2 separate regions of the Homo sapiens genome follow, and region 1 is linked to region 2. The links come from fine-mapping of genetic effects on gene expression. A gene starts in region 2. The other region holds a variant in brackets. All regions are shown on one strand. Distances are from middle to middle.

Evidence for each region. PIP is the estimated chance that this variant, and not a neighbour inherited with it, causes the effect.
Region 1: its variant is the best candidate, but not a certain one, in a credible set for the expression of ZBTB18 in skeletal muscle (GTEx, PIP 0.63).

What each region holds. Positions count from the first base shown.
Region 1 is chr1:244,233,239-244,236,156 of GRCh38, forward strand. All of the region lies in intron 2 of LOC105373262 (a long non-coding RNA gene), which reads right to left. Among named protein-coding and RNA genes, the nearest start is that of SPMIP3, 120 kb to the right of the region's middle. The variant T/C (reference allele first, on the strand shown) is at 1,421.
Region 2 is chr1:244,050,111-244,053,028 of GRCh38, forward strand. It overlaps ZBTB18 (zinc finger and BTB domain containing 18), which reads left to right and starts at 1,173. Exons shown (of 2, transcript NM_205768.3): 1 at 1,173-1,334. The coding sequence starts at 1,322. RefSeq lists enhancers at 182-231, 1,948-2,449 and a silencer at 412-501.

The DNA.
Region 1 (2,918 bases), 180 kb after region 2:
GAGTGAGACCCTGTCTCAAACAAACAAACAAACTAACTAAATAAATAAATAAAAACAAATAAACAGATAAATAAATAAAATTGTAATTCCAGAAGTCATTTTATACGAACCCAAATTAGTTTTTTTACCTTTTCACTTTGAAAAAAAATTACATGGAAACTATGTCTGTTTGCCCCATCGTCCCCCTTCCTGCACGTCATCACCACCGTCAGCCCTGTTGCCACAAAAGGTGGCACTTTCTTGGTCCTGTACAGAATGTAATTTTCACTTGCCCCTGGAAAATCAATATGGAAAGGCTCTAATTCCCCAGATCTCGATTTTTCAATAAAAAAGTGAAAATGAAACTCTGCGGGATTGCAGCCAAAATGGTGCCCTGAGCCAACCGCAGTCTGGAGGGAGACTCAGAGTTTCAGAGAAAACACCAACTTTTGACATTGTTCTGCTCAGATGACCCATCAGATGGGAGCAGAAGCCAGTGTCTAGGGGTCTATGACATAGACCGGGGTCTATGAGACTCGGCAGTGCTCCTTCCAGAAAGGCTTCTCACTCCAGAGGGATTCGGGGCAAAACTCTGCCTGTCCCGAGGTGCTACTGAGGGCCGGGATAGTAACAGGGAAAAGCTTAACTTTGGACCCAAAACATCCATGAGTTAAAATTCTGTCTCCATCATATTATAATGGCTACTTTCTGCTTAGCAGCTCTGATGATCTGATTTCGTCAACCCAAAGGAGGAGGAGGAAGAGGAGGAGAGAAGCTGAAGTTGTTGATTGAGCTCTCAGCGTTGACATGAGGAGTCCATGAAACAATCTACAGGAAGGCACCCCAAACGAAGCCTGGCTGGGAGTAGACATTCAATAGGGTGCATTTCCTTCCTGCCGCCACCCCCTCTGTCCCTAGAATTGAGGTTGAACAACTGATACCCTTCAGTACCTAGTGTTGTCAGTGGAGGGCCACAGTGAACTATTCAGTCCCCTACCCTAGGGCCTCCTAATCCCCCCACGATGGTGACAGACATAATGAAAGTGCCGTCGCCTATCTGCAGACTCTGTGACCAGACACCCTCCAAAGCAAAATCACCAAGGGCTCTTCTACAGCTCTTTCTGTGGCTGTTTTAACACTGACACCTGAGAAAGAAGAGCAGCCCCCAGCTTGAGACCTCATCCTGTAACAGGAGCTGGGCTTCCTGGCTGCTGCTGCTGCTGCTGCGTGCCCCAGGACAGCTCAGCCCGAGCCAAGCGCAGTGCCTGCCATTAGAGTGCGAGTCCCAGGACGCTTGGCTGCTGCCACCTGATCCTGGGTGGGTCACGTAGCTTCTGGGTGCTTCAGCGTCCTCAGCTGTCGAACAGGTTAATAATAGTGAGGCATGCTCTGACCCAGCGCAGTGGGGTTTAGCCAAGAGAAGCCTCCCTGACAAGTTCAA[T/C]GATGGGAAAAAAAGAGACGACATTTTAAAGAACAAAACCACATAGCATTGAAGTTTGTTATTTCATGCTTATGTTCCTCTTGTGCCCCAAAGCAAAGGAAAGGGAATATTTAAGGTCCCCGAGATAACACACACCCACTTCTCCAGGTTTCCTGGTGTCTCTCTGTTGAATACGGCTCAGTCTTATGAGTTGCTTTCTTGCCAACCCCAGTAGCTTCCAAACCTGTGACCTGGAGGCTGTGCAGTGAGGGAGGAGGCAGGAGAGGGAAGGAATGGAGTGGAGGCTGGCTGTTGCAGGCAACCGCACAGGGTTTTAATGACTGCCCCGCCACCTCCACTTCCAGGTTCACCAAGACTCTATGCAATGGGAGAGGGGTAATTCCTCAGGAATTGTTATCATCAGAAAATGAAGGGATGGATTCTAGAGGGGTGCAAATAATTGATGCCAAGTACGATATAAAAGCATTGCTGAATTTTTTTAGGAAAACAAAAATAAGCAAACAAGTCTGCCTCCCCACACATGAATAGAACCAATTTGATTGACATGAAGAACTGGGGCCTTGAAGACAGTGTTTTCTGGCTAGGCATGGAGACAGGGACCATTGGCCACTAGTGCTTTGGGATTTCCTGAGTGGGAATGCCAGAGATTACTAAAGATTCAGCTGAGACAAGAGCCTCCTAAGCCACACCCATGGAGTTGCTCATCCAACCTTATCTAACAGCAAGAAGTTGGAAACAACCTAAATATCTATCAATAGAAAACTGACTAGGTCACACATACAATGCCATACTACTGTTCCATTAAAGGCTATTAAAAATGGGCTGGGCACGGTGACTCACGCCTGTAATCCCTGCACTTTGGGAGGCCAAGGCCAGTGGGTCACCTGAGGTCAGGAGTTCGAGACCAGCCTGGCCAACACGGCAAAACCTTCTCTCTATTTAAAAAAAAAAAAAAGCTACTAAAGAGAAAAAAAGAAAAAATAAAGATTCACACATAGAAAGATGCCCCCATAATATAGTATCAAGCAAAGAAATCAGTTTATATAAATTGTATGATATTATCCCATGTAGGTGAAAGGGAATCCACACATCTACGTTGCGTATATATTGAGAGGTATCCTGAAAGATGTTTGCAAAAATGTTACTGCAGCTTCTTCACGGGATAAGATCTTGACTGATCATTTTTCTTTCTTCCTTGTTCTCTTCTGCATTACTTGACTGTTCCTTTCCTTACAAAGAGCACTTACTTTTTTAAAAAAAGCACTATTAAAAATCCATCTCTGTAAGAAGTAACTTTCATCTTTTTATCTTGGTGGAAGTTTGTGATTGAATAGTGAGAAGGGCATTGAACATCTTCTTGATCTTCCAAGATATACTCTGATTAATAGAGAATAAAGCCCTCTCTGATTTCCTAATATCACATAAAATACCAAGGAGAAGGAAAGTAAGGTAGGAGGTCATCGAAAGTATTTCCTTTGACTCTGAGAAATCCTCTGTC
Region 2 (2,918 bases):
GGAGTCGTCGGGTTTTGTTACTCTTTAACTCTCCGCCACGGCTTTCTAATGGGAACGAAGTGGTTATCACCAGGGCTGGGACGCTGGCGCCTCAGGCCCCAGTTCCTTTTCTACCCCTCGCCCTCCCAAGAGTCTGAGGAGATGTATTTGACATTCAGAGATGTCGCAGCACCCTGCCCGGTACCGGTCAGCCCAGCCCGGGTCGCGTTACAGTTTCATCAGCTATTAGAAAAGACCCACAAACTGGCTGAAAAGTTCTCAAACTTACTAGACCTGGCTTCCCCCCACACAAAGATTTTCTTGTGATCATAAACATTAGAGTGACCCCCCCCCAAAGAAAAAAAAGATTGTTAAGGGACACAGATCAAGGGGAAGGCAAGGTTCTGCTTTTTCTGAGCAGAAAGATCAGATATGCAGGTGCAGCATTCATTTTAAGTGACTGGAGCAGGTTGTATCAGTTTATTAATTGGTCTCGTTGAACTGAAGTACTTTCCAGGATTTCAGAAAGTGCAGTTTCAGCTTGTTGGTACCGAGAATTGAAATTTGCATTGACTGTGGCAGTGTAAGAAATTTTTCTGAGAAGGTAGTTGTAGATAAGTAATTACATAAGAGTGAAATAATAAGGTGAACCAGTCTGAAGTAATAGTTCTGAACAAGTCTGCCAACATTTGAGACATGTATACCATTATCTCAGCAGAAAAAAATAAAAAAGTGCGGTAATAATGTTGAAATGGGACTGGAGATGTCAAATGGGTTGGTTTAAAAATATCCCTAAACTGCTTTAGAAACTAAACGTTGGAGTTGAATAAAAGTGAATCTGGATTTCCTGAATAGCACCGTGGCTTGAGTGTGCTGTCAGTATGTAAGCCAGTCCACCAACTTAAGACAGAAGTGTTGCTATTCCATAAATACAGTAGAACTCCATATGCTGAGTTTTTCAATTTCTTCTGTTAGAAAGTTTGGAAAAAAAGGAAGACTTTGAAGTATTTTGTTTATACTAACAGAAGAGAAAAGTTCTCCTAAGAAAAAGCTGGTGGCAGGAGTGTAGAGGAGTAGCATATGGCATTAAAAGGAGCACAGCTGGAGGTAGCATTTCCATCTGAACATGATGTCAGAGCAGCTGACAGCCTGCCATCCCTCAGCCTTTTATTCTAACACACAGACAGGGAGTTAGTGTGTGCGGATCTGTGGTGGAGAAGGTATCTCATTCCTCTCTAACATCATCTCCACTTTGCATCTGTCTCTCTTAGTCTGCTTTTTTTCCACCGATGTAACAGACCTGGAGCCAGCAGGACTCAGAGGAAAGGACTTAATCAGGTTTATGTGTCCTAAAGGTAGGAGTAGCAAGAGATTAGATTGAGCATATTTCTGTTTTGGTGTTTTGTTTATTTAATTTTAAAAATCACATTACTTTTCTAACCCAGTTTAGGAATAATATATGAAATTGAGTATTAAATGAACATCTTACTGGAGTTGAAAGTCTTGAGCTTGTTTAGTTTTAATTTTTTATCCCTTTTACTTGAGCGAGTAAATAACTTTAATACACAAATATTTCAAGTTTTGAAATGTTAAGAAAGGCTTTAAAATGCTGCTTTTGGAAATCACGTTGGATTAAAATGCTTTTTTGTTGTTCACTGCTATTTAGATTTGATTGGGGTGGTGGTGGTGGGGAAATAGTAAACTGGAATCCAGCATTCAAACTTATATGAGAAGATTATTCTAGTTAAGCAGCTAGATTGTTGTATAATTAATTCCTCTGTGAAACTTTATTCTTCAAAACATTGAGCAGCACTACTGAAACATACAGCTGTAGTGCTGTTGAAACTGCAGGTTTTTAAGAAGAAGAAAAAAAAACCAAACTTTTGTCCCCAGGAGAATAGTTTGACTGGTTTCCTCATTTCTCTTTCAAATATATATTTAAGAGATCTTTTATTTCAGCATAACAATAATTATTTGCAGGAGTTTTTGTGTTAGCGACTAATTTAGAACTTGTAGATTTGAGCTGCCTGAATTGGCCAGACAGCTGTAATCGCACTCCTCTATTCTTAATCTCTTTATCTGGGCAGCAGCTGCCATATGGCCACAGTCAGCTGGATCAGATGTTTATAAGCTTCCTTCTTCGTCCCTCTCTGTCCTCTCAGCCTCCTAATTTGATCACGGCTACCTTGTGAGCTGCCCTCCAATCTTTATTTTTAGCCTTCTCAAGGATTAGGATTGATGTTAGCTGTGGGGCACTTAAAGTGATTGTATTGTAAATCTTAGTTTATTCTAGCAGTGGCATCTTGCAGAATGTGTCTGGGGTTAGGATAAAGTTTTAGTCTGTCTTGGGCAAAGTGTAGAAGAACAAGAAGAAAGGAAGTAATTTCTGAATATTAAATTAAGTGTATCTATTCCCAAAATGCACTTGCTGAGATGGGTGGTGTGGAGGCTTGCTTCTGGTCACAGGAAAGGGGAAGTCGGGTCTTCTTTATTTTTCAGGAGTTTACCCACTGCAGTTGAATTCTGACCCTTTGTACATCTTTGCCTTTCTCCTCCCTCCATTTCACTTTCCCTCATCACAAAACAAGGGCAATGATGAATATTTGCAAGAATAGAAGCTAGTGGGAAAACAGAAATATATCAAATTATATTGAAACAAAGTATTTTCTGTTGGCTGAGGTAAGGCAGAACCAGGAAAAAAAAAAAGGTTCTCTTTTTCTAAAAAGGCTTAAAAAAAAACGTTGAACCTGTAAAGCTTTTGAGTTTTATTTAAGCGCTGTATGCCTTTATTTTTAAAAGTTTGAATTAATTTCAATATGAAACTCATTTTGCCTTGCAACGGATCAAAGTTTAGATGAGAATTTTCGGAGTTCAGTAAAGCCCCTCTGGTTCCTAATATTCTGAAAGTACAGTTTCTACAAAGAAATGTAACTACTTTT